Linked DNA regions of Homo sapiens: region 1 is linked to region 2. Evidence: fine-mapped expression QTL. A gene starts in region 2. The other region holds a variant in brackets. All regions are shown on one strand. Distances are from middle to middle. Region 1 overlaps EHHADH (enoyl-CoA hydratase and 3-hydroxyacyl CoA dehydrogenase). Region 2 holds the start of EHHADH (enoyl-CoA hydratase and 3-hydroxyacyl CoA dehydrogenase).

Region 1 (16,766 bases), 43 kb before region 2:
TTGTTCTTCAAAGGATATCAATAAGAAAATGAAATGACAGCCAGGTGCAGTGGCTCACGCCTGTAATCCTAGCACTTTGGGAGGCCGAGGCGGGTGGATTGTCTGAGCTCAGGAGTTCGAGACCAGCCTGGGCAACATGGTGAAACCCCATCTCTACTAAAATACAAAAAATTAGCTGGACATGGTGGTGTGCACCTGTAATCCCAGCTACTCGGGAAGCTGAGGCAGGAAAATTGCTAGAACCTGAGAGGTGGAGGTTGCAGTGAGCCGAGATCATGCCATTGCACTCCAGCCAGGGTGACAGAGCGAGACTCTGTCTCCAAAAAAAACAGAAAAAAAAAAATGAAATGACAAGCCATAAACTAGAAGAAAATACTTGTGTGGTAGTCAGAATAACACCCCCCCCACCAAATGTTCATGTCTTAATTCCTAGAATCTGTGAATGTATAACCTCACATGGTAAAGAGATGTATAGGTGAGAGTAAGATTAAAGACCTTGGCTGGGCACAGTAGCCCACGCCTGTAATTCCAGTACTCTGGGAGGCCGAGGTGGGCAGATTGCTTTGAGCTCAGGAGGTTGAGACCAACCTGGGCAACGTGGTGAAACTCTGTCTCTACCAAAAATACAAAAAATTAGCCGGGCATGGTGGCGCACCCCTGTGGTCCCAGCTACTCTGGAGGCTGAAGTGGGAGAATCGTTTGAGCCTGAGAGGTTGCAGTGAGTGAGCCAAGGTCGTGCCACTGCACTGCAGCCTGGGTGACAGAGTGAGACCCCATTTCAAAAAAAAAAAAAAATTAGACATTGAGATGGGGATATTACCCTGTGTTATCTGATTGAGTGCAATCTAATCATATGAGTCCTTAAAAGCAGAGAATCTTTCCTGACTGTGGTGAGGGGGATTCAACAAGGAAGAAGGGTTAGAGAAATGCAACATGCAAAGGACTCGACCTGTTGGCACTGATGTAGCTTTGAATATGAGGAAAGGAGACCAAGAACTAAAGAATGCAGTGTTCTCTAGAAGCTGGGATTGACCTTTAAGGTTTACAAGGTCGCAAGTTTGCAAGCAAGAACATGGGGACTCTGATCCCACAATGCAAAGTACTGAGTTCTGCCAACAACCCAAATAAGCAGGAAACAGTTTCTCCCCTAGAGCCTCCAGAAAAGAGTGCACCAGCTGACACCTGGATTTTAGCCCAGGGAGACCTCTACAATACTTCTAGTCTACACAACTGTAAGAAAATAATTTCGGATGATTTAAACTGCTAAGCTTGTGGTAATTTTTTAGCACAGCAATAGAAAATATAATTGGCACATCAAATATCAAATAAAGAACTTGTTTCCAGAATATGTAACAAACTCTTATGACTCAATAATTAGGTAAACAATGTAATTTCTTAAACGGGCAAAAACTTGAGCAGTTATTTCATCAAGGAGCATATGTGAATGGCTAATATGCACACAAAAAGATGCTCGACATCATTAGTCATTAAGGAAATGCAAATTAAAACCGCAACAAATGTGGTAGACAGACTCTAAGTAATGGGCTGTCATTTCTAGATTAGGTTACAAAAAGACTCTGGCTTCAGTCTTGCTCATACTTTCTTGCCCTCTCAAATTGGTCACTCTGATGGAAGCCAGCTGCCCTGTTGTGAGCCACCCTATGGTGAAGCCCACGTGGCAAAGAACTGAGGGAGGCTTTCAGCCCACAGTCAGTGAGGAACTGAGGCCCTCAGTACAACAGCCCATACGGAACTGAATCCTACCAACAACCGCTTGAGTGAGTTTGAAAGCAGATTCTCCCCCTGACCCCTAATCAACCTGAGATGACTACAGCCACAGACAACACCTTGATTGTAGCTTTGTTTGAAATCTGAAAGCCAGAGGACCTAGGACACTTGGATTCTGGACCCACAGAAATTGTGGAATAAATGTTTGATTTTAAGCCACTAAGTTTTGGGGTCATTTGTTATGCAGTTAGACTTACTAGAATGACTATAATAAAAAGCCATCACTACTGAATGTTGGTGATGATGTAGAGAAACCAGAAGCCTCATACGTTGCTTCTGAGAGTGTAAAACAGCACATTGCTTTGGAAAACAGTTTAGTTGTTTCTTAAAAAGATAAACATAAACTGATTGTTCAACCCAGCAATTTCACTCCCAGGAATCTACACAAGAGAAATGAAAGCATATGCCATAAAGAAAACTTGTCTACAAATATTCATGGCAGCATTATTTATAATAGCAAAATCTGGAAACAATCCAAACATCCATCAGCTGTTGAATGACTAAAGAAATTTGATAGAGCCATGCAATAGAATATTATTCAGCAATAAAAAGGATCAAACTGTTGATACATGCTACAATACAGATACAGATGAGCCTCAGAAACATTATGCTAACTAAAAGAAGCCAGATGCAAAACATTACATATTGTATGATGCCATTTAGATCCAAGGTCCAAAAAATGCAAATCTATAGAGACAGAAAGATCAGTGGTTGCCTAGGGCTGGGGATGTGAGTAGGAGTTAGTGTTAATGGGCATGAAGAAACTTTTTGTGGGAGTGGACAAGTCTTAAAATTGATTTATGGGGATGGCTGCACAATCTATAAGGCAAATCACGCCTCATTAAAACTGTTAAAGTGTATCTAGAAATGAATTTATCAAGAAAGGTACAAGACCTTTCAGAAGATAACTATACCATTTTATTGAAGAACATAAAATAAGACCTTAATAAAAACAGAAAAGCACCATGCTTCTGGATATAAATATTTAATAGCATAAAAATATATTTTCCATATGTATTATATATGAAATTTTAATAAGAATCCTTATGGTACTATTTTAAAAAATAACTTTACAGAATGATTCCAAAGTTTTCATAAAATAATAAATTCATAACAACTTACAGTTACCAAAACTTCAGCTATACCAGAAGTTGTTTTCTATAATGTACTGGCATCTCTTAAAAAATAAAACCATTTTATCAAAAATGTACATCTTAGTTATTTAGACAGAAAGCCTACCAGGGCTTATACCAGAGCAGTTTCACCATAAAAAGACATATGAACATAAGCGCATCTGGCATTGAGCCCCTCTGGCATTGGTGTGTTAGGCGTGTCCAAGGGAACGTGAGTAAGGTTTGGATGTAATCATGTGCACATGGTAATATAGATATATTGTATAATCTCAGCCTCCTTTTTAAATCAAAGAGACAAGAATATTTTCTTAATGCTTGATTAGTAAGTAGTGTTGGAAAGAATGAGTTTCTGAATTAATGATTTCCCATATGATGTTAAAGAATAGGATTCAGGAATGGAGAGAAGACAGTGGTTATAGGCATGTGGTCCCTCTCACCCTACTACTTTGAAAAAACATGAACCGTATCCAATAGGCCCACCAATTACTTGCTCAATTACCCAAAGAGTTAGCCCAATCCTCAATTTAAGGGAAAGCAAACTCAGCAGAGAAGAATGGGGACTCCCCCAGGGTCTACAGATGATTTAATGTGCCGGTGACCTAAAAGGAAGACAAGAATGGACAATGGGGAGAGGAAGGAGAGAACAAGAGCATGGAGGCACAAGCGGAGGAGGAAGGCAGGCTGGGCTGCCGGTGCAATCTATGCCATGTAACAGGGCATAGACAGCGCTGGGATATCTTAGAGTTGGATCTCTGTCTTGTGATACTACCTCTGTTCCCAGCATTCCTGGGGGTGCTTCTCAACATCATAGCACACATCAGATTTATTTGAAGAGTTTACGAAGTTCAGATGCCCACATCATACCTCAAAATTAACTGCTGAATTTTTTAAGAGTAGCCATGCCCAGGCCTCACCATAGATTCAGTTAAGAATCTTTGCCGGGCACAGTGTAATCCCAGCACTTTGGGAGGCCGAGGCAGGTGGATCATGAGGTCAGCAGTTCAGGACCAGCCCAGCCAAGATAGTGAAACCCCGTCTCTACTAAAAATACAAAAATTAGCCAGGCGTGGTGGGTGCCTGTAGTCTCAGCTACTACTCGGGAGGCTGAGGAAGGAGAATCGCTTTGAATCTGGGCGGCAGAGGTTGCAGTGAGCCGAGATTGTGCCACTGCACTCCAGCCTGGGCGACAGAGTGAGACTCTGTCTCAAAAAAAAAAAAAAAAAGGGAATATTTAAAGGTGGGGCCTAGTAAGACTATTCTTGAAAAGTTCAGAAGCTGATTTTAAGGTATAGCCTCTGGGAGCTCCAAGAGCAGAGAGTGTTGTCCGCCACTGAATCAAGGACAGCTGCAGTTCCTGGCAATTTCATTTTAGGCCAGAGATTGAAAAGAAAAGATGGGAAAAAAAGAGAGGAGAGAACAAAACTGAAATGAAAAGAAAGCCTGCTTAATGGTGTGCAGTAATTAGTTCTGATCAGCATAATCCTATTATCCCGGGGACACTGAAAACCTCGCAGACTGCATATGGGCATTTTGGGAGCTATCCAAGGCACTTGTCTAGACCAGTCCTAGGGCCAAACTAAGCATACCCACTGGAAAATTTTGGATCCGGGCACAATCATAGATGGTTTTTCCCTGCTCAATTTCCTATCTCTTTCTTGCTACAGCTATAACTAAGGATGCTGTTATCTTACAACTTCAGTTATAAGATATTCAGAATTTCCCCTTTGGGTGTATAAGTACAGTTGTTTTCAAAGTGTATTTCTTGTATACTTGGTAGTTTTCAAGTCACTCAGCAGTACCTATACAATAAGAGAGGCAAGTGTCAGTATGTCAGCATCAGCATTGGCTGCCCAGGGAAATGGGGAGGAAAGGAAGTAATCAGTGATTCAAATATACTATTAATTGAATTCTTTCCTTGACCCATTCACATTTTTTCTTAGTTCTATGAGGTATTCTATGACATTTTTGATAAAAAAGATAAGTGAGTCACGTTTCTGAAGGAACAAAAGGAGGTGATTATTTTCCCTTCTTCTTCTGCTGTAATGGCAGGAAAAGATTTTCTCTGCCTAGGCTAAAGAGAGACTCAACATGCGGTTCACGGAAATCGTGAACACAGACATCAAGGAATCTGTCTCTCTCTCTCTCTCTAACCCTGATAAACAGAAAGCTGTGTCCATCATAAAAGCTTTGCAAAGGACAGACAGAATAACTGCACATTAACAGGCTTCAAGAAGGTGACCCACAGAACTTGTCTAGCAGGTAAAAAGGAAGCTCAATTTAGACATGTGCGTAGGCCTCCTATGTAAGGCAGGTCACTCTGCTCTTTTGAAACATGTTCATATAAATGTTCACAGCGGGTAAAAATAAATTACAAAGTGAAGAAGATAAAATGAAGAGAAAGACAAATAAAACCACTAAGGTTTTTTAAAAGCCACAACTCCAAAAGAACAAATAGACCAAGGTCTTTAGGCAGAATTAGAATTGTTAAAAGTGGCTAACACAGCCCAGCACAGCCACAGGAACAGGACCAGGGTTCATTACAGAAAGGAAAACGGAGCATTAGGTTCCAGAGTTGACACTCCCAGCTGGATAATTCCCTGTGCCCATTCCAGCTGGGGAAGGTAGAGAGAGAGAGAGCCTTTAGTCTCTTGGTCTTTGAATAACAGCACACACATTCAGCATCATGCCAGAAACATGCACATGAGAACAGGAGTTCTTAGTTCAGAAACAGGCAGGCTGCTAGCCACATGCATGTGCAAATATATAGCATTTTATAGGATGCTCCCCTCCCTAGTTTAGCCAATGCAATCTGGTTTGGCCAAGTAATTCTGCATTGCACTGCTAAATCCATTGCACTGCAGTAGTCTGGGAGGCTTCATAGAATACGAACATTAAAATGCATAAAGCTAATGAACTTCCACAGTCAACTCACCAGGATACAGTGTTAAGTTTGTAGAGAAATGTGCCGCTAAGTCCCAAATTGCGTTTTAGGTATGTTAACCTTCTACACTCCCTTCCCACTCGTAATTGGTTCCAAAAGTGCTGATTGGAACCTTGACCATTGGAAATTCCCTTTTCTCCCTCCTTTCCTATAAGAAGTAGAAACTAAATAAATGTTCTTCATCTTCTTCTTTCGTTGTTGTTGTTGTTTTAAAGCAAACATTTGAGCAGTGGGAGTGAGAATAGGCTGAATAATTGGAATATGGTTACAAATGGGAAAAGGGAATACAAAAATTCAACATGTATTTTTTTAAGACAGAGACAGACTTTGCATACCACAAAAGTCACCACTTTAAAGTGTATAGTTCAGTGTTTTTCAGAATATTCACAAGGTTGTGCAACCATATGTGTATGCATTTTAACCATGCCTTTCATAACTGATTTACAAAAATATCTTTAAGACTATAGCAGCTGGGTGCGGTAGCTCACGCCTGTAATCCCAGCACTTTGGGAGGCAGAGGCAGGTGGATCACTTGGGGTCAGGAGTTCGAGACCAGACTGGTCAACATGGTGAAACCCCGTCTCTACTAAAAACACAAAAATTAGCCGGGTGTGCTGCCTTGTGCCTGTAATCCCAGTTACTTGGGAGGCTGAGGCAGGAGAATTGCTTGAACCCAGGAGGCGGAGGTTGCAGCGAGCCAAGATTGCACCATTGTACTCCAGCCTGGGTGAAGAAGCAAGACTCTGTCTCAAAAAAAAAAAAAAAAAAAAAAAAAAAGACTATAGGTAGTGTTTGCGTGTCAGGTGTAAAAAAAATCAAAACTAGCAAAAATTATCTCCTTTCTTACCCTTGTTCTCTGTATATCAATGGTTCTCAAAGTGTGGTCCCCAGAACACAGCATCAACATCACCTAAGCATGTTTGTTAGAGATACAAATTCTTGGGCCCCACCCCAGATTTAATGAATCAGAAAGTAATGAGTGGGGCCCTGCTAACCGTGCTTTAACAAGCCCACCAAAAAGCAATTTTGATGCACAGTGAAGTTTGAGGACCATGGCTCTAGATCAAGACAATTGCTCTAGCTTTCCATAACTATAGATTTCTAATAAATGCATATATATTTAATGTAATTAACATATTGAATTTTTGTGGAAACTTTCCTTCAAGTTAATCCATCAATTTTGTTCTGCTAAATGACCACACACTAACCACTGTATTTAAAACAAAGAGGCTGGGTGCGGTGGCTCACGGCTGTAATCCCAGCACTTTGGGAGGTAGAGGCGGGTGGATCACCTGAGGTCAGGAGTTCAAGACCAGCCTGGCCAACATGGTGAAACTCCATCTCTAATAAAACTACAAAAATTAGCTGAGTGTGGTGATGCATGCCTGTAATCCCAGCTACTCCAGAGGCTGAAGCAGGAGAATCAATTGAACCTGAGAAGAGGAGATTGCAGTGAGCCGAGGTCATGTCATTGCACTCCAGCCTGAGCAACAAGAGCGAAACTCCGTCTCAAAAAAAAAAAAAAGAAAAAAAGAAAGAGAAAAAAGAGGAAAGTGGGGAAGCACAAAAAGAAAAGATAGGCACAATACCTCAAATGAAAATGAAAGGCAAATAAATAGGCCTCCTTAAATTATAAATTTGGTAAGAGAATAAATGGCAAATGTTGACAAGATTCTGAGTTAATCCTTGGTTGATCTGTCTTTTTCTCTACCTTGATCTCCAGCGTTTGTCTATTACAAAGCAGCACCAAGAAATCATAGGATTTCAAACAGTGGAACTCATTTAAAAAAGAAAAAACAGTAAAAGTCCTAGGGTTTCCATGGGATTCTAATCATTAAACCCCAAAACACACATTACACCCCAAAACCTTGCTTGAGTTGTTGCAAGGACAAATAACTAAGCACCCAACCACTGTAGCCTGTGAGGTCTCAGAACATGATTTGAAACCAGCTAATTTTGTTGAACCCTTTCTTTTACCAATACATAAAACAAAGCCCCAAAGATGATTTGTTAAGGTCCCGTAGCTAAAGCTGAGACCTCTGTCTCTCCTGACCTCCAGTCCTGAGCCCATTTCTCTAACAGACTGCGTCCTTTCCACACTGGCCTCCCAAAGTCATCCATTTTTTTGGGGGAGGGGGTAAATTTAATGACTTAGATATTAGGAAAAGATAAATTTTTTTTCAAATCAAGAGTCTAGATTACCTACCACCCAAGTACAACCACTACTGAAAATTTGTTACATCGCCTTATAGTTTTTTCCTTATGCAGGTACATATAAGAACACACGCACACACTTGTAAAATTTTCTACCTGGCTGTTTTCTTCTTAATACTATATGTAAGCAATTTTCCAAGTTCTTCAACTTTCTTTAAAAATGGAAGTTGTAATAGCTGAATGGAGTCAGTTCATTGAGATTATCGTTTTTACATAATTAATTTCCCAGAACTAAATATTTGAGTTGTTTCCAATATTTTATGATAATCTAAAAGCTTTAGTGAGTATTACTGTATACAAATCTTTGTGTATTTATGTGATTATTTCTCTATGGTAAATTCCTAAGAATAGAAAAACTAAGTGAAAAGGTATGAGTAATTTTAAGCCTCTATAAGTGATTGTCCAGCTGCCTTCTAGACAGGATGTATTACAAGCATTCTAATGAGAGCTTATTTAAACTCAGTCTCACCGTATTTGTTCCATCTGTTCTGATCTGCTTGGCAAAAATTAGTGTCTTTTAAATCACTGATTTTTTTATTAATAAATTTTAAAAAGCATTTAAGAGTCAAGCATACACTTATTACAACCCAGCAATACTATTCTCAGGTATTTACCCAAGAAAAAGGAAAAACTATGTCTACAAAGACTTGTGTAGGCCCAAAGTGGAAACAAACTAAATGTCCATCAACTGATAATGGATAAACAAATTGTGGTTTACCCACAATGTGGAATACAAGTCAATAAAAAGGAACAAAATATTAATGCATGCAACAATAGGAATGGCTCTCAAAAACATTATACAAAATAAAGCCAGCCACAGAAGACTATATACTACTGCATGATTTCATCCATATGAGATTCTAAAAAAACCATAAAAGTATGACAGAAAGTAGGTCACTGGTTG[C/T]CTGCGGCCAAGGGGAAGAAAAAAGGATTTATGGGAAAGGGGTATGAGAATACTTTTTAGGGTGATAGAACTATATTTTGATTGTGGCCATGGTTATACAACTGTAAACAACTACCAAAATTCACCAAACTCCCCCTTAAAATGCATGAATTTTATCTGTAGAAATTACACCTCAATACAGCTGGAAAAAATAAAAACAAAACCAAAAATAATTTAGAAATGTTTGAGAAAACTAACTTATCCTAAGCTGGAGAATAAAACAAAACAAAAGCAAAAATCACTTAAGAAATTTTGGAGAAAAACTAACATTTTCATTTTTGCTTATTTCCTTTCCATTTGTATCTGTATTCATACATACTCCAGATAATGATCATTACTCTATACACGATTATATACTGTATAATTGCAAATACATGTACATTTATATTCTACACATTTTTATATCACAATTTTACATTTTTCTATATAGTTTTCATGATTATAATTTAAAATAGTAACACATAATTGTCTAAAGCCCTGAAGTGTTAAAAGGTGAATTACAGGTTTAAAGCAAATGGTGCCTCAATATTTGGATGCCACCAAGTGGACAAACTGTATAATGTCGTTGAGATGAAACACTATTTTGTAAGTTTTATAAAGTAAAAATGCTTAATTTAATGTTTACAATTAATTTTAAATTGTGAATAAATTAAAGTTATAACCAGACCATTTTAGAAATGTAGCTAAGGTTGAGACCTGGATCCAGGTCTCCTAGATCATGAACCTCAACTATTTCTTGAAGTAACTTAATTCTCAAATCAGAATCTAGGGAAATCACTTAAGGAAAAGAACTTCCTGTTGAAATTGAGACCTTTACAAACTAAAACTACAGATGTGAATGACAGACACGGGTCTACCTTTAGCAAACCAAAGAATCATTTCGGGACCTCCAAATGCAAATAGCCTTTGCTGTGTGTCTGTCAAGTGACTTCTAACAAAACAATAAGCCCCCTCGGGAAGCACAATGATGAAAACACAGTGAAGGTTGCCTGAAAGGCCGAGAAAAATAGTAGGAAATTTATTTCTATTTGGGCAAGGACTTGCTGATTCTCTTTAGGGGTCTCCATTATTTTCTCCCCATCGTTCCTCCCCTCTCCAGTTCAAGCTTTTACTTTCACATTGAAACAGTAACTGGCTAGAGCCACAAAAAAGAAAGATTATTTCAGGAAAGTGTTTGGTCTCTGCCAAGGTCAACAAAAGAATGACTCCTTCAAAAGAATGCCTTTGAATGACACTGGGCCATTGCCTGCCACCAAGCGGGAGACCAGCACTCTGTTCTGCCTGTAACGCAATACTCTTCCCAATTATTTTTTTCTGGCTATTTTTACCCTCTCCATCTTGCTCATTTAAAGATGACAACATCCATAGACTGAAAAGAAACTGTGAAACAAACAAAAAAACCTCTGTGAGTGCCACTGAAAGAACTCTGAAAGGAACATCCCGAGTCCATAAAGTAAGAAACCACTGAGAGAAGGACATAACTCAGTTTGCGGAGACAGAAGTTCTCAAGGCCCACAGTTTTACTGCGGTAAATTATAGAGCCTGTGATATGGTTTAGATGTGTGTCCGCTCCAAATCTCATGTTGAAATGTGGTCCCCAGTGTTTGAGGTGGGAGCCTGGTGGGAGGTTACTGGGTCATGGGAGCTGATCCCTCAGGAACGGTTTAGTACCATCCCCTTGGTGATAAGAGAGCTTTCACTTAGTTGATGAGAGATCAGCTTGTTTAGAAGAGTTTGGGGCCAGGCGCGGTGGCTCATGCCTGTAATCCCAGCACTTTGGGAGGTCGAGGCAGGCAGATCACGAGGTCAGGAGTTCGAGATGAGCCTGGCAAACATAGTGAAACCCCGTCTCTACTAAAAATACAATAATTAGCGGGGCATGGTGGGCGGACGCCTGTATTCCCAGCTACTTGGGCTGCTGAGGCAAGAGAATCACTTGAACCCAGGAGGCAGAGGTTGTGGTGAGCCAAGATCGCGCCACTGCACTCCAGCCTGGGCAACAGAGCGGGACTCTGTCTCAGAAAAAAAAAAAAAAAAAAAGAGTTTGGGACCTCCACACTTCTCTCTTGCTCTCTTGCCATATGACGTGCCTATTCCTGCTTCACGTTCAACCACGGGTAAAAGCTCTGAGACCTCACCAGAAGCTGAGCACATGCTGGTACCATGCTTGTACAACCTGCGGAACTGTAAGCCAATTAAATCTTTTTTTCTTTATAAATTACCCAGCCTCAGGATTTTCTTTTTTTTTTTTTTCTCGAGACGGAGTCTCGTTCTGTCGCCCAGGATGGAGTGCAGTGGCGCGATCTCGGCTCACTGCAAGCTCCGCCTCCCGGGTTCACGCCATTCTCCTGCCTCAGCCTCCCGAGTAGCTGGGATTACAGGCGCCCGCCACCACGCCCGGCTAATTTTTTGTATTTTTTAGTAGACACGGGGTTTCACCGTGTTAGCCAGGATGGTCTCGATCTCCTGACCTCGTGATCCGCCCACCTCGGACTCCCAGAGTGCTGGGATTACAGGCGTGAGCCACTGCGCCCGGCCAGGAGTTTCTTATTTAAATGAACATGTATCCTGTTTACAGTCTTTGGCTATTTTTATTATTATCTTCTTACCTGAAACTCTCTGAGCAAATCTGATTGCTTCTTCAACCGGGTCTGAGTTTACAACTTTATCTAGAATGCCCAGCTTGAGTGCTTCATCTGCTAAAATACGTCTTCCTGAAATAAACAACAACAACAATAACAACAAATCAAAGAGCGATGTAAGATTAAAGCAAAAGCATTACTCTCTCTAGTAGGAAAGGCTGTCTGTCTGGATATAAATATCTATTATTGAATAAAATAAGTAAGAACCACACTCACTGAAAGAATAGAAAGATCACCACTGAGGTAACCAGGAAACTTGGATTCAAGCTCCAGCTCTAGTTTCCACTATTTGTGTGACCATGAAGAACTGCACCAGGACCACAATTTCCTCATTGGCAAATGGCAATAATTATGCTTATCTCAGTAATTCTGAGTATTAAGTGAGAATAACAGATTCTCTTTATATTCTATAAATCTCTATAGAAGTACTTTATGAACTACAGATCTCTATAGAAATGTGAGATGTTTAGTTTTTTATAATAATAATAGAAGTAGCAGCAGCAGAGTAATATATAGTATCTACCTTATCCCTAGCACACCCCATTGGCTGTGGATGGTTAAAAAAAAAAAAGGACCGGGCACGGTGGCTCACGCCTGTAATCCCAGCACTTTGGGAGGCCAAGGCGGGTGGATCACCTGAGGTCAGGAGTTCGAGACCAGCCTGGCCAACATGGTGAAACCCTGTCTCTACTACAAATACAAAAATTAACTGGGCATGGTAGTGGGCACCTGTAATCCCAGCTACTCAGGAGGCTGAGGCAGGAGAATCGCTTGAACCCAGGAGGTGGAGATTACAGTGGGCTGAGATCACACCACTGCACTCCAGCCTGGGCAAAAGAGATAGACTCCATCTCCAAAAACAAAGAAAAAGAGAGAGAGAGAAAATTTAAAAAAAAGATAGTCCCCAGACATAAATATAGTTAACTCAATGAGAAAAAAATTAAGTTGACATTCTATAAGGTATAATTAAAATTACCTAGGACAAATGGGATGGATTTCTGCCAGTTTTTGGCTACCCAGCATCTCAGCTCCTCCCTTAGTTTGTGGAATTGCTATTGTGTGAGCTTTGAAGCCCTGCCTTCTACTACAGAAGCTGAAAAGGACACAGATGATTAGACAATTGACAATTTGACTGTGGCAGCTGGAGTGTGGCCCATGACCCCAGTTAGTGAACTGAGTGCTCTGTTGAGGGTTTTTAGCTTGGAGTTAGTGACACTAAGCAGCAGCGACAGGTTAAATCTCATTTCACAGGTGCCAATATCTAGTGTCTGGCAGTGGTGGTGCTGGTATACTTAGCATCCAATCATGCCATTGGCATCCTCCAGTACAGAATGTCAGCAATAGGAGATATAGAAGTTTGATGAGGGTTTGCACCGTTCCTAAATTTGCCTTGACAGTTCTTCACCAGTTGTAAATATGCAATTTGATCTGCATATTCTGAGGTAAGAGGTAGGGGACATCAGCATCCCCTACCCCAGGGTCAGAAGGAAGAAGACAGTGACACATCGCTTGCTTTCTTGCCAGTACCATCTTGCCTTCTGAAAAGCAACCATCAAATCCATCTTGGTGGCAACAGTCCCACAGTCTTCACTGCACTTACAGTGTTGGTGGATGCCATCGGAGACAAACCCTCCATTCCTGGTTCTTATTATTGCTTCAGAGAACTACAAATGAGTTTTCTTGATTGGATAGAAAGTTCAGTGATTTTTTTTTGGTAGGTCTCTCTTTGAAAAGCAGTATTTGGGCAGTTTTCTGGAAGTATCTCTGAAAACAGGCTTTCAGATCTCCTTCTGGAGTAAGGAGTAGGGTAAGAGGTACATAAATGGTTTCTGTACATAAGTATCCTGTGTATAAAATCACTTTGGTAAGGAGAGAGTGAATCAGCCTACCCAGGTTAAGGGAACCAAGCAAACACAAAATGGGACATGGAAACCTGGATATTATTATAAAAGGATTTTGAGGTCAACTAAGCAGGGAGAATGTGAGCTACTCCCAGATAGACTAAAAATTTCTCTAGCTGTAATGATTTCTTCTGGCTTGGATTTCACAAAATTGGAAGAGTACCACTACTATTCTAACAGAGTCAATGGGATTCCAAGTACAGTCATATGCCATATAATAACATTTCTGTCAACAACACATATATGATGGTGGTCCCATATGATTACGATATCATATATTTACTGTACCTTTTCTATGTTAGATGTGTTTAGATACATAAATACTTTCCATTGTGTTACAAATGCCTACAGTATTCAGTACAGTAACATGCTGCACAGGTTTGTAGCCTAGGAACAAGAGGCCATACCATATAGCCTAGGTGTGTAATAGGCTATACCATCTAGGTTTGTGTAAGTAAACCATGATGGTCACATAACAACAAACTCGCCTAATGATTTCTCAGAATATATCTCGTTGTTCAATGATGCATAGCTGGACTTTTATCCTGTATCAAAGAACTAAGGATCTAAAGACATGGCTCTGTATATCCAATCCAGATTCTTAGGCTGTAATTTAAAATTGTTTTTTCTTATGACATCGTAAGTGTAGATGACAACCACTGTCCAATGGGCTCTAATAAGAACCCTGTGTGCCCTAAGGGAACTGAGGTTGAGAGTTTCTTCTCCAACCTGAGTAATCTCAATTTTTTCCAATTTTCTTGATAGCTTCTTTTCTAACCTTTACAATTTTTTTCCACATGGAACTCTTTCCAAATGTCATATTCAAGTTTTCCTAAAATTGTGCAGACTACTTAAAAAGACAGGTGTATAATTCTAATGTTAGCTTTCTTCTAATTCACTATGACCTTTTCTATGCAAATCAAAACCCCATCATATTCTTACTGTTTTTACCTCTTTTCTGCATGTTAAAAATAGTGATGTTTCTTTAAGCAGTGCTTTGGGAAAAGGCCAATCCTAGTTCATTTTATTTCTTTTTGTCAAAGCCAGTTTTCCTGATTTCTTCCAATAATCTTGGTTTCAGGCAATACTGCAAATAGGGCAACAAAATTATTCAATATTCCCCCATATACTTTAAGTATCTGTAAACCCTCAAATTTACAGACTCATTTTACACTATTATGATTTCCTCCTATATTTTAGGCTTCTTTGCTTCCTATTTTGTCTTTTGCACAATAAATTGTCTCATGTGCTTTGAATCCTGTAGTATGTTGGATCCTAAGCATCCTTTTATGAATTTGACATTACATACTTAAAATAGTTCACATTCTTTAAACTGTATTTATTATACCATTATAAATTAAAACTATCTAACTTGATTTATTGAAGGAAATAAATGTCATATTTCTGGTCTAACTCTCCTTTTATACACTACAGATTTATAAAATCATCCCCCCATTTAAAGGAAAAATCCATTTTTAATGCATATAGCCTCATGATATTTTTTTTTCTTTTTTTTTTTTTTTGAGATGGAGTCTCACTGTCACCCAGGCTGGAGTGCAGTGGCGCAATCTCGGCTCACTGCAACCTCTGCTTCCTGGGTTCAAGCGATTTTCCTGCCTCAGTCTCTCGAGTAGTTGGTACTACAGGCCCATGCCACCACCCCCGGCTACTTTTTTGTATTTTTAGTGGAGATGAGGTTTCACCATGTTGACCAGGCTGGTATCAAATTCCTGACCTTAGGTGATCCACCTGCCTTGGACTCTGAAAGTGCTGGGATTACAGGCATGAGCCACCGTGCCCGGCCCGCCTCACATTATTTTCTAATTTGGCTAATGTATACACAATTTTATATCATGGTTTCTATACGGATTTCTACTAGCAGTTATCAAACGGGTCTTAGGACCCCTTTGCACTCTTAAAAATTATGGAGAACTCCAAAAAGCTTGTGTTTATGTAGGTTATATATATCAATATTTACTGTATTAGAAATTAAAACTGCAAGCTTTTGTCTGGGTGTAGAAATCACAAGGCCGGATGTGGTGGCTCACACCTGTAATCCCAGCACTTTGGGAGGCCAAGGCAGGAGGATCACCTGAGGTCAGGAGTTTGAGACCAGCCTGGCCAACATGGTGCCCCCCGCCCCCTGTTTCTACTAAAAATACAAACATTGGCTGGGTGTGCCACGAGCCTGTGGACCCAGCTACTTGGGAGGCTGAAGCAGGATAACTACTTGAACCTGGGAGGCGGAGGCTGCAGTGAGCCGAGATCGTGCCACTGCACTCCAGCCTGGGTGACAGTGGGAGATACCATCTCAGAAAAATAAAAATAAAAAAAGAAAAATCACTGCAAGCTTTAAAAATGTTTCTTTATTAGTTCATTTTAAAATAATAAACTCACTGCATGTTAGCATAATGTTTTTATGCAAAATAATTATATAAAAAATTTAAAAATTAGGGAGAAGAGTGCAATTGTTTTATATTTTTGCAAATTTATTTACTGTCTGATTTAACAGAAGACAGCTGCATTCTCATTCTCCTATTGCTTCTGCATTCAATCTGTTGTGATATCACAAGGCATATTACAGTCTCTGGAAAATTCCACTACACATTTGTGAGAAAGGCAAGTAATGTCTTATTATTACGAAAATAGATCTGATCTCAAGGACTCTGTAAAGGTCTTAGGCCACACCCGAGAGTCCCTGGACCACACTTTAAGAACCCTGAGATTTAGATCATCATTCTTCATAAATATTACATAGCATCCTAGCATGTGAATATTCCACAGCATTTACTTGTGGCTGGTATAATTTTAGTTCCTTTGAAAGTAACCTTTCGTTTTATTTGTTTTTATCCTGGGGAAGCTTGCAGGATTCTATTTTCTGGAAGTTTAAAATCTTTACCAAGACACATCAAAGAATTATCTCCTCATCAGTTTTTCCAGGAAAATGGCATGCTTGTTAAAGTACAATCTCTGATGCTATTTAATGTCTGAAGAATTTCTTCTATTTTTTCTTTTGGTTATTGCTTTCATTTTTTTTGCCTTGTGCTTTGGGAGCACGTATTATTCAAAGCAGAGACCTCTGTTATGTATCTTCCATGTCTGCTATCTTCATTTACATTTTATTTATCTTTTTGTTAAATTCTTCTGAATTCTTTAGATGTGTCTCTTTTTATCCTCTATGTTGTTGATTCTGTAATCTATCCT
Region 2 (16,766 bases):
AGGCTTCCCCAGCCATGTGGAACTGTGATCAATTAAGCCTCCTTCCTTTATAAATTACCCAGTCTCGGATATGTCTTTATAGCAGTGTGAAAATGGACTAACACAAAAATATGGTTGCCCAAAATAAAGACTATATTTTCCAGCCTGCTTTACAGTAAGGTCTGCACAAGGAACTAAGTTCTAGCCAATGGGATGGAAGCATATTTGGTATATGCAACTTTGGGGAAGAGTTCTTAAAGATTTGGGTATGCTTTTCCCTTTTTCTTTCCTCCCTATTCCTGGCACCAGTGATGGTTAGATCAGGAGCAGCCACCTTGGATCAGGAGGTAGAAGCTATGTATTGAGGATGGTAGAGCAAGAGATAGACAGAGAAAATAATTGAGGCCCCTGTTGATTGTGGAGCAGCTGTATCATTCCAGGGCACTGCTGTGAGAGAAATTAGCTTTTTATTGTCTAATTCACTATTATCTTCACTATTCTGTCAGTGACAGCCAAGCGTAATCTTAACTAAGATAAGATATAAAGGCAAGATAGTGGAAAGATAGGGCATGTAGCAGATTTTGCCAAGTTTTAATATATGAGGAAGTCATCTGCAGAAGAGATAGCTAAAACCAAGACTGAATGAGTCTACCAAAGGAAAAGAGAGCTGAGGGCAGATCCTCTGGATATATCTTCATTTAAGAAGTGGGACAAGCTCAGCAGAGTGATTCAGCAAGTGAGCTCAAAGTCACAAAGACCAAGAGAGAAAATTTGTGAAGAAGGAGGGGATTAATAAGTACCAAGCAATAAGAGAATCTAGGGCAAGTGGTGAGGAACTGCTTAAAAGGAAAAACCACAGAACCAGATTCCAATCAGTTTTGCCTTGGAATTCCAAGTATTCTGAGTAAAATCTCTGTTCTTTAGTACACAGGGTTAAAAATAAATTTTAAAACAAAACAAACAACAACAAACTTCTGTAAAGGCCATATTGTTAAGACCAACAACTATTAGTTAAAACCCCAAGAAATAAAAAGGATACTTGCCCTTATTTATAATGATTCCCTTACACCTAATTACTTTTCACCTCTTAACCTAGATGAAATCAGACAAAACCTCTTGGCTTCAGCTGGTTAATTAGAAGCCAAATCTGACCATGAAAAGCAAATTCAGAACCATTATATAACATCAAAAAGTCCAAAAGGCACACATTTCCTTCTGAATAAACAATGCTTACAAAACTAGCCAAAATTAGCTCAATCAGTGCCACTGAGGAGAAGAAACCAGCTTTTCCCATTTCAACCTATCTTCCTTTTTTATGTTCATAATTTTGCAAATATCAAAAACAGGAAAAAAATGAAAATAGCTATAACAGATACGCACTTTACTAGATTCAAGCTGACAGAGAGAGTCATAGCAATGTAAAGGCCGCAGAAGTTATGAAATTATTTTCTCCTGTTAATACTGTCAGGCATGAAGAAATAGAGTCTGGAGTAGAGACAGCATTTCATGACTACTGACCAAAACTCTTCAGCTTCTTTGACTATAGAAGGTCTTTCCTTTTTTTTTTAGACAGTTTTTTTTTTTAAACCAAAAGTCATCAAATCAAGTTTGTGGCTTGTGACCAGGATTTTTTCAAAGAAAAAGAAGAGATGAGAAAATAGACTATATCAAACAATATACCAAGTAAGGATAGGTTTTGTTTTAGGAAACTGCTTTCGGTTACGTGTTTGTATGTAAGTGTGTCTTGAATTGCTACGTAAAAACGTGAGCTTTCTTACTCTGTGGATTACAGTAAAGCAATCGTGTGAAAGCCATTGTTCTGGGAGACAGGCCTATTAATCAGGCATGTCCTATACTTATAAAGAGGGCTGGTGTTTATCTGAATGGAAGCAAACATGGCTGGCTAAACTAGCAATGAAGGATTTAAACTATTTGTTTTGGGGAAAAAATTTATATGTGTGTGTGTGTGTGTGTGTGTGTGTGTGTATTACACTCAAGTAAGAATCTCTCAATCAGCTAGGAGGAGACGACTTCCCATATAAAATTAGAAATAGGAAGGGGAAAAGGAAGAAAGGGAGGAAAGAAAAAGTGTAAGAAAAAAATTGAGGAATCTGTTAAACTTGAGGAACTCCTAGGATGTCCATTTCTACCTAAAAAAGTTCAGAAGACAGACAAAAAAGGGCAGAGAAGTACTTATTCCCAAGTGGAGAATATCTTCTTGATGAAACTGAAGTGGGTCCTGAGTAGCAGGGCCTGTTTTTGGGGCTTGAACAGGTCTTCTGACTAATAGGAATAACTAACATCTATTAAATGCCACTTCATAATTTCCAGCTGATTTAAACTTCACAACTTTATGAGGTAGGCCCTAACATTTCTCCTGCAAAGAGGATGGGGGTGGCACAGGTGGTTGCATGGGTGGGCAAGGAGAGCAGGTTAAATTCCAGAAATATTAAAAGCAATTGTCAGAGGCTGGGCACGTGGCTCATGCCTGTAATCCCAGCACTTTGGGAGGCCGAGGCAGGTGGATCACGAGGTCAGGAGATTGAGACCATCCTGGCCAACATGGTGAAACCCCGTCTCTACTAAAATACAAAAAATTAGCTGGGCGTGGTGGCACGCACCTGTAGTCCCAGCTACTCGGGAGGCTGAGGCAGGGGAATCACTTGAACCCGGGAGGCAGAGGTTGCAGTGAGCTGAGATCACGCCACTGCACTCCAGCCTGGCGACAGAGCAAGACTCCGTCTCAAAACAAGCAAATGAGCTTAAAAAAAAAAGAAAAAAAAAAAACAGTTGTCAGAAAATATTCCTAGTCATGGGTATTAGAGTATGGAACTTTTCCCCCTAAGGTCCTAATATCTAGCAATTCTAATCAGTATATAGACCAGTCCAAAATTGACATGTAATCATATTACTTACATTTTTCTTTGTCAAAACCAATATAACAGATATTTTGCTTTTTATTCTGGGAATGGCAAGTTAGTAGACATGTCATCCTTATGTGATTTTAGTCCTGCATTTTTTGACATTATTAAATGCAATAATTCATAATGAATTAATATTAATACTAATGATAAATCAAATCCAATGACAGTAGGATTTTTAAATTCTATTAAAATTAGCAGGTCTTCTCATTTCAGTCTCTTTGCTTCAGCAGCATGTTATAAGAATTTTGACCAAAGACCTTTCTCTCTATGCTTTATATATTCTTGATAAATTATAATTTCCACTAATCTTATTCCCTGTGGATAGGTAATTCTTTTTCAAGGCTGACATATAATTATTTTTTTAAGAGATGTAGAAGGACCAAACCAAATAATCATTACTTTTCAAAAAGGCAACATTGATCTCACTTTTTAATGTTTAAAGTGCACCACACAAGGCAAATACTCCCCAGTGAGAAAAAGAAGATAAGGTGCAATTTTTCAGAAAATGCTATTGCATAGGCTTAGTCTGATGTGAGTCTTCCTTGGAAGCACCAAAGTCCTGAGGTTTAAACAAATCAGGAGAAATAATTTTGCGTTTCCGGGCCAGGGCAAAATTCTGCTTTAATCACTGAGCTGGCATTAGTGGGACTTTTAACATTAAAAAAAAAAAAAAAAAAAGTCCCACTAATGCCAGTGATTGCCCTATTCCTAAAGCCTTTAGCCAAACATTGTAAGGACAGCCTGGACTCAAAGAAGGGGAGTGAGGCTGGATCAAAGTCCAACATCAAACTAAGTTAAGACCTTTGGATTAGAAAGTCGGCCTGCACACTGGGACCTGTTGTGGGGTGGGGGGAGGGGGGAGGGATAGCATTAGGAGATATACCTAATATTAAATGACGAGTTAATGGGTGCAGCACACCAACATGGCACATGTATACATATGTAACTAACCTGCACGTTGTGCACATGTACCCTAAAACTTAAAGTATAATTAAAAAAAAAAAAGAAAAATAAAAAGTCGGCCTGCAAAGCCAAAGTTGCAAGTAAGCAGGAGGGCTCCGCATGAAGGACAGGTCGAGGCCAACTCCCTAAGTGTTGATCTGTCTCAGCCTCAGCCTCAGTTTCCTTATCAGTAAAACGGGGACGAGAGTTCCCTGCGAAGATTAACCAAGCTAATCTAGGTTAAAAAAAAAAAAAAAGAAAAGAAAAAGAAAGAAAGAAAAGAAAAAAAAAGTTCCTGGCATGTACCAGTTGCTCAACTCTTGAGTGTCCTTCTCGGTTTAAACCGACGGGGGAGAGTCAAAGCCTCCGGAGCCAGAGGGCGGCTAAGGCCCGCACGGTCCCCGGGCTGGAGGCGACCGAGCCCGTTACCTGATCGCGTTGACCGGCGGGTTTCGGAGGCGGATTAGCGCCAAGGCGTTGTGCAGCCGCGTATACTCGGCCATGTTTCCTCTATCACCGAGGGCACCTCTGCCTCTCGCCGTCAGGCAAACCACTTTTCCGGGCGCGCCCGGCCTCCTCCAGAGGAGGGACGCCGGCTGGGCCAATGCGAGCCGGGGCGCCGCCTCCCGCCGCGCCTCTTCCCACCCAGCCCTCCTCTCCCGAGACCCCACCCGGCGCTCTACAGACGCTTGTCGCTTTCCCTTTATTAACTCCCATGCTGCTCCCACCAGAAGGTACAGCAAGGAGAATGATGGAAAACAGCTGTAATTGCCGGCAAGTCGAAGTTTGTAACCCCTTGGCCCATAGGGGCTGGCTACTGAGGACAAGTTCTGAGTTCGCTGAGACGGGCAAGCTGTCCTCATCGCGGTATTCATCTTCATGATCTTTCTGAACAGGGACAGATACCTGGGGCCCTCCCTGACAGTTATGTGATATTGATACACATCTGGAACACATAAAATACACATTGTTCATTTCACCTAAATGAGTAGGGTACTAATGAAACAGCCTTTGCAAAAATTCTAACAGTGAGAAAATTATGGCAGTCAAAGAGATCTGATTTAACCAACCCCATCTTGCCTTTAGCTGCCCTTAATTATTCCTGAGCTTAGGCCAAGTTAACTTTGGGAGACATTTGGTTTATAGTTTAAATGATAATAGCCCTTCCCCAAAACTCAACTGCCTTTGTAAAGCTAACCGAGAGACCACCAGGCTAGGAGGACAGAGGAGTGTGAATTCTCTCTGCTAAGGTGTAAACATAGACCATTGCCAGCCATTATTCCGGAAGCCACCAGATAGACAACTTCCCCATTTACTCCTGCAGGTAACATTACTATTGTAGAACCTAAGTTTGGCCTTTTGAGATATTTTTTCACGTTTGCCTGACACTGATGGCTCCACCTGGACCAGTCAACAGCTCCTGTGGCCCCACCCACAAGCAACTCAGTACAAGAGGATAGCTTCAACCCCTATGATTTCATCTCCAACCCAACCAGTCAGCATTTTCCATACCCTAGCCCCTGCCCACCAAACCACCTTTGAAAAACCCCTAACCTACTAGCCTTCGATGAGATTGATTTGAGTAATAACTCCATGTCCCATGTGGCGTGGCCAGCCTCACATCAATTAAACTCTTTCCTTACTGCAATGCTGTGGTCTTCCTGAATTGATTTTGTTTGTGCAGCAGGCAGGAAGAACCCATCCAGTGATTACTCTAACATCAACCAAATACTTATATAACATTGTTACTAGAGGAGGGTCTGGACTGCAAGTTGTCCAGGTTCTTGGCGTTTTGAACAAAGAATTGGACGAAACACACAAAGCAAGGGAAAAACAAAGCAACAGAAGCGAATATTTATTGAAAACGAAAAGACACTCCACACGGTGGGAGTGGGCCCAAGAAAGAGGCCCAAGGGACCTTGTTACAGAATTTTCTGGGGTTTCAATACCCTCTAGAGGTTTCCCATTGGTTACTGGGTGTACGCCCTATGTAAATGAAGAGGACGAAGTGAAGTTACGAAGTCATTTACTCAGTGTACACCCTATGTAAATGAAGAGAATATTTCCTGTCATAGCTGAAGTGTTTCCATTTGATTTAGTTCTAGAAAGTCTTTAGGTTCCCTGCCTTCAGGCCCTATACTCCTGCCTCAACATCTTTTTTTTTTTTTAATTTTTATTTTTTGAGACGGAGTCTGGCTCTGTCGACCAGGCTGGAATGCAGTGGCGCGATCTCAGCTCACTGCAAGTCCGCCTCCCGGGTTCACACCATTCTCCTGCCTCAGCCTCCCGAGTAGCTGGGACTACAAGCGCCCGCCACCACGCCTGGCTAATTCTTTGTATTTTTGGTAGAGATGGCGTTTCACCGTGTTAGCCAGGATGGTCTTGATCTCCTGACCCTGTGATCCACCCGCCTCGGCCTCCCAAAGTGCTGGGATTACAGGCGTGAGCCACCGCACCCAGCCCACAACATCATTTTTATTTGTCTTACAATCACATGCAACTAGCGAAACTGTTATGGGTGGACGGTGTCCAGGTTCTTGGCGTTTTGACCAAAGAATTGAAAATGCAAAACAAAGCAAGGAAAGAATGAAGTAGCAAAAGCAGAGATTTATTGAAAATGAAAGCACACTCCACAGGGTGGGAGCAGGCCTGAGCAAGTGGCTCAAGGGACCAGTTACAGAATTTTCTGGGATTTCAATACCCTCTAGAGGTTTGCATTGGTTACCTGGTGTATGCCCTATGTAAATGAAGGATGATGGTTGGGTGCAGTGGCTCACACCTGTAATCCCCGCACTTTGGGAGGCCATTGTGGGCAGATCACAAGGTCAGGAGTTTGAGACCAGCCTGATCAACATGGTGAAACCCTGTCTCTAATAAAAATACAAAAATTAGCCCGGCGTGGTGGCACATGCCTGTAATCCCAGCTACTCAGGAGGCTGAGGCAGGAGAATCACTTGAACCTGGGAGGTGGAGGTTGCAGTGAGCTGAGCTTGCACCACTGCACTCCAGCCTGGCAACAGGCGAGTCTCCATCTCAAAAAAAAAAAAATAAATAAATAAAATGACAATTTAAATGTTTAAATGGCCCATCAGGTAGCCAAATGTACCTGAAGCTTTGATTGTAAACCAAACATTGGTTATAAACTATTTTAGCAATTTATAAGTCAGCAAACCAGTATATATTTAATCTGGATCATTTTATCTTTTCCATGATGAGTCACGGAATGCAGAAACTTTAATAACAAAAGCTTTAAGGACTCAGGAAGAACAAGGTGGCCATCTTGGTTTTCCATGAGTCCATGCTTAACACTGGACTTATGTCCTCTTGAATACCAGTTGTTTCTCCAATTTAGGTGCATAGCACTGATAACTAATGGGTTTTCATAGCTGATTTGACTTAGACCATGGAGTTCAAATGACTTTAAATAGTGATAGTTAAAAACACTATTGACAAGGAGATTTGGTTATTTCTGTGGTCTACAATAACACAATAATTATGATTGATAGCATATACTCAGACATATTAGAATTTTAGAAATTCCATACAATTCTGGAACATATATTAATATCATTCACTAATATATAACCTGAAGATGATTAAACATTATTTTTTATTTTCACAATGCTTCCCATGTAACTAAACATATCAAATAATCCTGTTTACCTCTCTTTTGGATGGTTCACGGGCCTGCTGTAGCATCTCAAAGTTTGAGGTCAGAAAAGACAATTTTGAAGCTGCAATTTGATTTTGGGAAGCTTGTTAAATGTTTATAAAAATTAACATTCTCATGCCTTCTCATTATATTTTACCATTCATTCAACCAGTTTGCACAAAGAGGGGCCAGAAGTCCAACTGGTAAGAAATTCTTACCCTTTTGCCGGCATGTCAGCTTTCTTGAGTTCTCTCTCCATGAGCAGCCCTAGTGACCCTGCTCAACTGTATGCAAACAAACACATTGCTATGAATTAAGAATATTCACAAACAATTTACAAATTTTGAAGAAATTAGGCAGAGAGAGAGAAATATGACTCAAGTTCTATTTACAAAAGTATACTCAATATACTTAAAGTATCAGGAAGCCTAATATCCAAAAAGTTAGTTTAAGGTTAAAAAGCTTAGTGTGCTCCACCAATTCCTGTGAGCTCAACAAAGGTAGCCTAGGAATTCCAGATAAATGGAACAAATGATGACTTGGTAGAAATGCATAGAAAATAAAATAACTATTCACAGAACCAAATAAAAGCCTTCCACTAGAAACTAAAACAACAAACAAAAAAATGGTTTTCTATTTATGCGACCACAAGCAAAGCCTGGAGGAGAATAAACAGCAAACAAATGAAAATTAGAAGCAAAAACAAACAGGAACCCCACCCTAAATTTTTCCTACTCAATCTACCCTGGAGGCTACAGTGTTACTCAGGGCCCCCAAACACCCATATAATGAATATTTTATTCCTGATACACCATTCAATATCCTTAAGTCCACCAATATCATCATACATCCTGTACAATCAAGAAATTCACTCTAGGCACATGACCAATAAGTACTCCAGTGCCAGCACTATCCATGCAAAACAGTAAACGGTGTGAAGCAATGCATGCATGTATGTGAAATTTAGCTCCATACTTAACCAGCTTCATGCTTAAGTATATTAAAAAATATACTTATATTTCTTATTTTACTTTAGGCAAGACTAAGAGCTCTAACTATGAAATGTTAATTAGTCAAATTTCTCCAATTTTCTATCAGGTTTTAAGGAATATTTTATTATCTAAACTTTTTTTTTTCACATTTCTCTCCCCTACTTACTGGTTCCTTACTACATTGTTTCATAAATAACCTTTTCTTTTTTTTTTTTAATTATACTTTAAGTTCTAGGGTACATGTGCACAACGTGCAGGTTTGTTACATAGGTATACATGTGCCATGTTGGTTTGCTGCATCCATCAACGCGTCATTTACATTAGGTATTTCTCCTAATGCTATCCCTCCCCCAGGCCACCACCCACCGACAGGCCCTGTTGTGTGACGTTCCCCTCCCTGTGCCCATGTGTTCTCGTTGATCAACTCCCACCTATGAGTGAGAACTTGTGATAGTTTGCTCAGAATGATGGTTTCCAGCTTCATCCATGTCCCTGCAAAGGACATGAACTCATCCTTTCTTATGGCTGCATAGTATTCCATGGTGTATATGTGCCACATTTTCTTAATCCAGTCTATCATTGATGGACATGTGGGTTGGTTCCAAGTCTTTGCTATTGTGAATAGTGCTGCAATAAACATACGTGTGCATGTGTCTTTTTTATTATTATTATACTTTAAGTTCTAGGGTACATGTGCACAACGTGCAGGTTTGATACATAGGTATACATGTGCCATGTTGGTTTGCTGCACCCATCAACTCATCATTTACATTAGGTATTTCTCCTAACGCTATCCCTCCCCCAGCCCCCTACCACCTGACAGGCCCTGGGGTGTGATGTTCCCCGCCCTGTGTCCAAGTGTTCTCATTGTTCAATTCCCACCTATGAGTGCGAACATGAGGTGTTTGGTTTTCTGTCCTTGTGAGAGTTTGCTGAGAATGATTGTTTCCAGCTTCATCCATGTCCCTGCAAAGGACATGAACTCATCCTTTTTTATGGCTGCATAGTATGCCATGGTGTATATGTGCCACATTTTCTTAATCCAGTCTATCATTGATGGACATTTGGGTTGGTTCCAAGTCTCTGCTATTGTGAATAGTCCTGCAATAAACATACGTGTGCGTGTATCTTTATAGTAGCAAAATTTATAATCATTTGGGTATATACAGTAATAGGATTGCTGGGTAAAATGGTATATCTAGTTCTAGATTCTTGAGGAATCACCACACTGTCTTCCACAATGGTTGACCTAATTTACACTCCCACCAAAAGTGTAAAAGCATTCCTATTTCTCCATATCCTCTCCAGCATCTGTTGTTTCCTGACTTTTTAATGATCACCATTCTAACTGGTGTGAGATGGTATCTCATCGTGGTTTTGATTTGCATTTCTCTGATGACCAGTAATGATGAGCATTTTTTCATATGTCTGTTGGCTGCATAAATGTCTTCTTTTGAGAAGTGTCTGTTCCTATCCTTTGCCCACTTTTTGATGGGGTTGTTTTTTTCTTGTAAATTTGTTTATTTGTAGATTCTGGATATTAGCCCTTTGTCAGATGGGTAGATTGAAAAGATTTTCTCCCATTCTGTAGGTTGCCTGTTCACTCTGATGATAGTTTCTTTTGCTGTGCAGAAGCTCTTTAGTTTAATTAGATCCCATTTGTCTATTTTGGCTTTTGTTGCCATTGCTTTTGGTGTTTTAGTCATGAAGTCTTTGCCCATGCCTATGTCCTTAATGGTATTGCCTCAGTTTTCTTCTAGGGTTTTTATGGTGTTAGGTCTTACGTTTAAGTCTTTAATCCATCTTGAGTTAATTTTTGTATACCGTGTAAGGAAGGGATCCAGTTTCAGCTTTCTACATATGGCTAGCCAGTTTTCCCAGCATAATTTACTTACTAGGAGATCCTTTCCCCGTTGCTTGTTTTTGTCAGGTTTGTCAAAGATCAGATGGTTGCAGATGTGTGGTGTTATTTCTGAGGCCTCTGTTCTGTTCCATTGGTCTATATATCTGTTTTGGTACCAGTACCATGCTGTTTTGGTTACTGTAGCCTTGTAGTATAGTTTGAAGTCAGGTAGCGTGATGCCTCCAGCTTTGTTCTTTTTGCTTAGGATTGTCTTTTAGATAACTTCTGAATTAGACAAAATTATTCTTTTTCTCATAAACAACACAACTTTTTCAGGCACATTTTGTATACAGAATTATGTGTTAACTAGAATTCTTATCCTTAGTAACCTAAAACTTTAATGAAATCCTAAAAAGCAAGAAATCCTGAACTATCAGATATGGGCATTTTTAGATAAGAACAATTATACAATTATACATATTTCCCCATATCACAAACCTTTCTTAATTGGAAATGACCCAGATATTCAATGAACAACCCAAATAATTTTAAGATTTTAATTTACATAAAAAGTTTCCCTAAAACATTTATTCCATTCACTGCACTCAGTTCATTCCCCTTTTTGTTTTTTGTTTTTTTTTTTGAGACAGCGTCTCACTCTGTTGCCCAGGCTGGAGTGCAGTTGTATGGCCTTGGCTGACTGCTACCTCCACCTCCCAGGTTTGAGCAATTCTCCTGCCTCAGCCTCCTGAGTAGCTGGCATTACACGCGCCTAGCCATCGCGCCTGGCTAATTTTTGTATCTTTAGTAGAGACAAGGTTTCACTATGGCTGGTCTCAAACACCTGACCTCAAGTGATCTGCCCACCTAGGCCTCCTAAATTGCCGGGATTACAGGTGTGAGCCACTGTGCCTGGCTAATTCTTTTACTTTTTTAACAGTTTATCTAGATTACTTCTGTAAACTGAGGTATTAGACATTATCATTTAAAGTTAGTTGTTTCCTTGTTAACCATGTTTTCAATAGCCAGTGAACATCAGGTGCTCACCTAAACCTAAGTAAGAGCCTCAAAGTTAAATACATTGGTATTTTTACCAGTAACTCAGAAGATTTAGCAAATAATATTAAATTACTCTCATTTGTCAAAAAAAAAAAAAAAAAAAGGCACTCAAACCAAGATCATTTTGTTTTGGCTGGGTTATAGTTTTATAACCTTCTATGCCAAACACTGACATCTCAAAGTATCTAGCAAAGACAAACATAAAATCCAGACCAACATGTATGCTGACAGTTCTGAAGGCATACCTATTTTTATTTTATCAATAATTTTAAAACAAACTTGTTTAGTAAATTATACTTAAGTCACATGAATTTGAAATTGCTTAGATTTATTTACTTAATATATGAGTGCTCTTTTACTTATGTCAACTTGGTAGACATCATATAACAATAAGTGTACATACAAATAACCACATCTAGACATGTATACACACACACACACACACACAAAGATCCGATAGCTTGGAATGCTAGCCATGAGATAGCAATATAGGCTTGCCAGTTTTACTTTGTTTGCCCCAATAGGTAATACAATGCTGTGAACCAAAATTTCAGGTAAAGCAGTTTTCACGGCAGTTTGATATTTAAAGGCCAAACCTCCCCAGATTCCAAAGAACACTGGGGCCGAACAGCACCAAAGAGAACCTCACATACTAACCAGTCCTGACCCTGCTTAAAACAGCAGCCCAAAAGCCTGGATACATGCAACTCCATTCCACTTTTCCATTCAACAGCGAACTCCAGATTCCAAACAATATTGGGGCCAAACAGTATTGCAACTGCCAGAGAAAATTCTAAGCAGGGCTTAGTACTAGGCCTCAGAACCTCTGCCGAGGGTGTTTCCTTTGGAGAGGTTGAGGTCCAGAGGATCCCCCGGGGCACCCCCTTTGGGGTCCAATCTGAGTGTCAGACATCTCTGACTTTATGTGGGCACAGGTGCTGCTTTGCATGTTTTCCTTCCAGAGGCAATGCCCTACTCTGAGCTTTCCTTTGGTTCATGGGTATAATCCCCGACTTTTAGCATCCTTATAATTTGATAAGTCTGCGCTTTCCCATGCTTCCCATTCCACGAGAGTGATAGCCATGAACTGTAATGATAGAACTGGAGGCTGGGTGAGTTTCTCTTGTCCTCAGCTGAATAGGGTAAGGGAAAAATTTAGCATAAGACAAGAAGGGTTGGCCAGGTGCGGTGGCTCACGCCTGTAATCCCAGCACTTTGGGAAGCCGAGGCGGGTGGATCATGAGGTCAGGAGTTTGAAACCAGCCTGGCCAACGTGGTGAAACCCCATCTCTACTAAAAATACAAAAATTAGCCAGGCGTGGTGGAACACACTTGTAGTCCCAACTACTCAGGAGGCTGAGGCAGGAGAATCACTTTAACCTGGAAGGTGGAGTTTGCAGTGAGCCAAGATCACGCCACTGCACTCCAGCCTGAGTGACAGAACGAGAATTCGTCTCAAAAAAAAAAAAAAAAAAAAGAGGGTTTAAGTCACCTGAAACACATTCGAGTTCACCCTGCGTTGCACCACACATAGTTAGCTATAATTTAAAGGGAATTATTTATAATAGTCTTTTAAGATTGGTCCCCTATATTAAAACAAGATTTTCCTAAGGTATTGATTTGCTCTTACTGAAATTAGAAAAAATTTTACTTTCAATTTTATAATCTATTTCCTTTATTTATATTATTTATTTTTTTAGAGACAGAATCTCGCTGTGTTGCCCAGGCTGGAGTGCAGTGGCACAGTCTTGGCTCACTGCAGCCTCCGCCTCCCAGGTTCAAGCAATTCTCCTGCCTCAGCCTCCCAAAGTACTGGGATTACAGGCGTGAGCCACCACACCTGTAATTAAAATTAAAATTAAAAATTTTTAATTAAAAAAAATTTTATTTATTTATTTATTTTGAGATGGAGTCTCGCTCTTGTTGCCCAGGCTGGAGTGCAGTGGCATGATCTCAGCTCACTGCAACCTCCACCTCCCAGGTTCAAGCGATTCTCCTGCCTCAGCCTACCGAGTAACTGGGATTACAGGCATGCACCATCACGCCTGGCTAAATTTTGTACTTTTAGTAGAGACGAGGTTTTACCATGTTGGTCAGGCTGGTCTTAAACTCCTGGCCTCAAGTGATCCCCCCGCCTCAGACTGCTGAAGTGGGATTACAGGCGTGAGCCACTGTGCCTGGCCTATGTTTTTTTTTTTTTTTGGAAATGGAGTTTTGCTCTTGTTGCCCAGGCTGGAGTGCAATGGTGCGATCTCGACTCACCACAACCTCCACCTCCCAGGTTCAAGTGATTCTTCTGCCTCAGCCTCCCGAGTAGCTGGGATTACAGGCATACGCCACTACGCCCGGCTCATTTTGTATTTTTATTAAAGATGGGGTTTCTCCATGTTGGTCAGGCTGATCTCGAACTCTCGACCTCAGGTGATCTGCCTGCCTCGACCTCCCAAAGTGCTGGGATTACAGGTGTGAGCCACTGCGCCCAGCCTGCCTATTTCTTTTAAAAACTCAGAATCACATCTCAGAAGTTCAACTTTTGCCAAGTTTTGCTGCTCTCAGCTTTTTTTCTGCTTGAGAAGGCCTGAGATGATCTTTCCTTCAGCTTTTTTGCCAGCTCCTGTAACTTTCTTTCATTTCCTCTAATTCTAACTATTATGACCTGATGCTAAAATGTATTATCTTGAAGGTCTAGAAAAGCAATGTTTTCCTGTAGCATAACCTGATTCTGTACTTTTGGCTTTTCTTGATATGCCAAAATTTTCAATGTAATCAGAAAACTCTTCTTTTCTTTCTCTTTTTTCTTTTTTTTGAGACAGAGTCTCACTCTGTCGCCCAGGCTGGAGTGCAGTGGCGTGATCTTGGCTCACTGCAAGCTCTGCCTCCTGGGTTCATGCCATTCTCCTGTCTCAGCCTCCTGAGTAGCTGGGACTACAGGCGCCCGCCACCACGCCCAGCTAAGTTTTTGTATTTTTAGTAGAGACGGGTTTTCACCATGTTAGCCAGGATGGTCTCGATCTCCTGACCTTGTGATCCGCCAGCCTTGGCCTCCCAAAGTGCTGGGATTACAGGTGTGAGCCACCACATCCGTCAGAAAACTTTTCATACTATTCCTTAGAGTCATGTATTCCCCCTGCTATCCTCATAACCTTGAACACACTCTTTCTGTGTCTGATTAAATTCAAGCACTTTTATCAAGTTTGACTTCCAGGTTATCTAAATGGGCTTCCCATAAGTAGAAGCAGTCACGCTGCAATAGGTTTTTCTTTGTCTTTTTGGTAACCGGCTTAAGAAATAAGATTTTATCATTCCTATGCTGTCTTTATTAGGTTTTTGATTGCTAAAACAAACAAACAAAAAACAAAACAGGCCCAGCACAGTGGCTCATGCCTGTAATCCCAACACTTTGGGAGACCGAGGCGGGCAGATTACCTGAGGTTGGGAGTTCGAGACCAGCCTGACCAACATGGAGAAACCCTGTCTCTTACTAAAAATACAAAAGTAGCCGGGCATGGTGGTGCATGCCTGTAATCCCAGCTACTTGGGAGCTGAGGCAGGAGAATCGCTTGAACCTGGTGAGAGAGGACTAGCTGGATTTCCTAGGCTGACTAAGAATTCCTAAGCCTAGCTGGGGAAGGCGACCGCACTCACCGTTAAACACGGGGCTTGTAACTCAGCTCACACCTGACCAATTAGGTAGTAAAGAGGGCTCACTAAAATACAAATTAGGCTAAAAGCAGGAGGTAAAGAAATAGTCAAATCATGTATCGCCTGAGAGCACACAGGGAGGGACAATGATCGGGATATAAACCCCCAGCATTCGAGCCGGTAGGGGCAACCCCCTTTGGGTCCCCTCCCATTGTATGGGGGCTCTGTTTTCACTCTATTAAATCTTGCAACTGCACACTCTTCTGGTCCGTGTTTGTTCCGGCTCGAGCTGAGCTTTCTCTCGCCATCCACCACTGCTGAGTGCCGCCGTCGCAGACCCGCTGTTGACTCCCACCCCTCCGGATCCGGCAGGGTGTCGGCTGAGCTCCTGATCCACCCAGCAAGGCGCCCATTGCTGCTCCCGATCAGGCTAAAGTCATTGTTCCTGCATGGCTAAGTGCCCAGGTTCGTCCTAAATGAGCTGAACACTAGTTGCTGGGCTCCATGGTTCTCTTCCATGACCCATGGCTTCTAATAGAGCTATAACACTCACCGCATGGCCCAAGGTTCTATTCCTTGTTATCCATGAGGAAAAGAACCCCAAGTCAGAGAACAAAAGTCTTGCTGCCATCTTGGGAGTGGCCGCCACCATCTTGGGAGCAGCCGCCACCATCTTGGGAGTTCTAAGAACAAAGACTCACCCTGTAACACTGGGAGGCGGAGGTTGCGGTAAGCCAAGATCATGCCATTGCACTCAGGCCTGCGCAACAAAAGCGAAACTCCGTCTTAAAAAACAAAAAACCATCTGATATTTAAAAGGGTTACAGTTTTTACATCCATTTAACTTTCTGTATTGCCTTTGAGGTTTTTTAATTATCACTTATCACTCTTGGTTAAATGTATGACTTATTTTACAATAACCTGTGATTCTGTTTTAATCAAATGTTTTGAGCCTGTTTACATCTTAAACAAATGTCCTCAAAATCAACATCCTAAATTAAGTCTCTCAGTCTTATTACCGGGGCTTATTGAGGCTACAAAAATTAATCACTGCAAGGCTGTAGAATCTTTCTACAGCTTCTAGTCAGACCATGAACTCCAGTATCACCACCTTAAGCCTCATAATTACATATGCTGGAAGAAAACCAGTTAAAGGACTCCTTCTTGTCCCCTTAAAAGGGTCCTTATCAGGTGTTATTAATTAATCCTTGTGCTATGTTACAGGGCTTTGACTCCTGGGTACACATATCTCATCTGAAGAAGACATTGAGTCCTGCCAGTATCTCACACCAAACCCAAGTTAACCAAAGCCTTGTCTTTAGACCTGAGCAAAAGTGGCAAAGTAAACTGCTTTTTTTTTTTTTTTTTTTTTTGAGACGGAGTCTCCCTGGCTCTGTTGCCCAGGCTGGAGTGCAATGGCTCAATCTCGACTCACTGCAACCTCCGCCTCCCAGGTTCAAGCAATTCTCCTGCCTCAGCCTCCCAAGTAGCTGAGATTACAGGTGCTTGCCAGCACGCCCAGCTAATTTTTGCATTTTTAGTACAGATGGGGTTTCACCATGTTGGCCAGGCTGGTCTCGAACTCCTGACCTCAGGTGATCTGCCCACCTCAGCCTCACAAAGTGCTGGGATTATAGGCGTGAGCCACCTCGCCCAGCCATAAACTGCTTTTGTGAGACACAGGGACAGACCTGTATTCAAAACATTAAAATTCATTTCATTTAATAATTTTG

What was found. PIP is the estimated chance that this variant, and not a neighbour inherited with it, causes the effect.
Region 1: its variant is fine-mapped to the expression of EHHADH in whole blood (TOPMed, PIP above 0.99).

The regions. Positions count from the first base shown.
Region 1 is chr3:185,206,508-185,223,273 of GRCh38, forward strand. It overlaps EHHADH (enoyl-CoA hydratase and 3-hydroxyacyl CoA dehydrogenase), which reads right to left. Exons shown (of 7, transcript NM_001966.4): 5 at 11,629-11,733. Among named protein-coding and RNA genes, the nearest start is that of MIR5588, 38 kb to the right of the region's middle. RefSeq lists an enhancer at 1,843-1,892. The variant C/T (reference allele first, on the strand shown) is at 8,981.
Region 2 is chr3:185,249,675-185,266,440 of GRCh38, forward strand. EHHADH (enoyl-CoA hydratase and 3-hydroxyacyl CoA dehydrogenase) reads right to left here and starts at 4,375. Exons shown (of 7, transcript NM_001966.4): 1 at 4,275-4,375. The coding sequence starts at 4,348. It overlaps MIR5588 (microRNA 5588), which reads right to left and starts at 3,598; the gene lies at 3,536-3,598.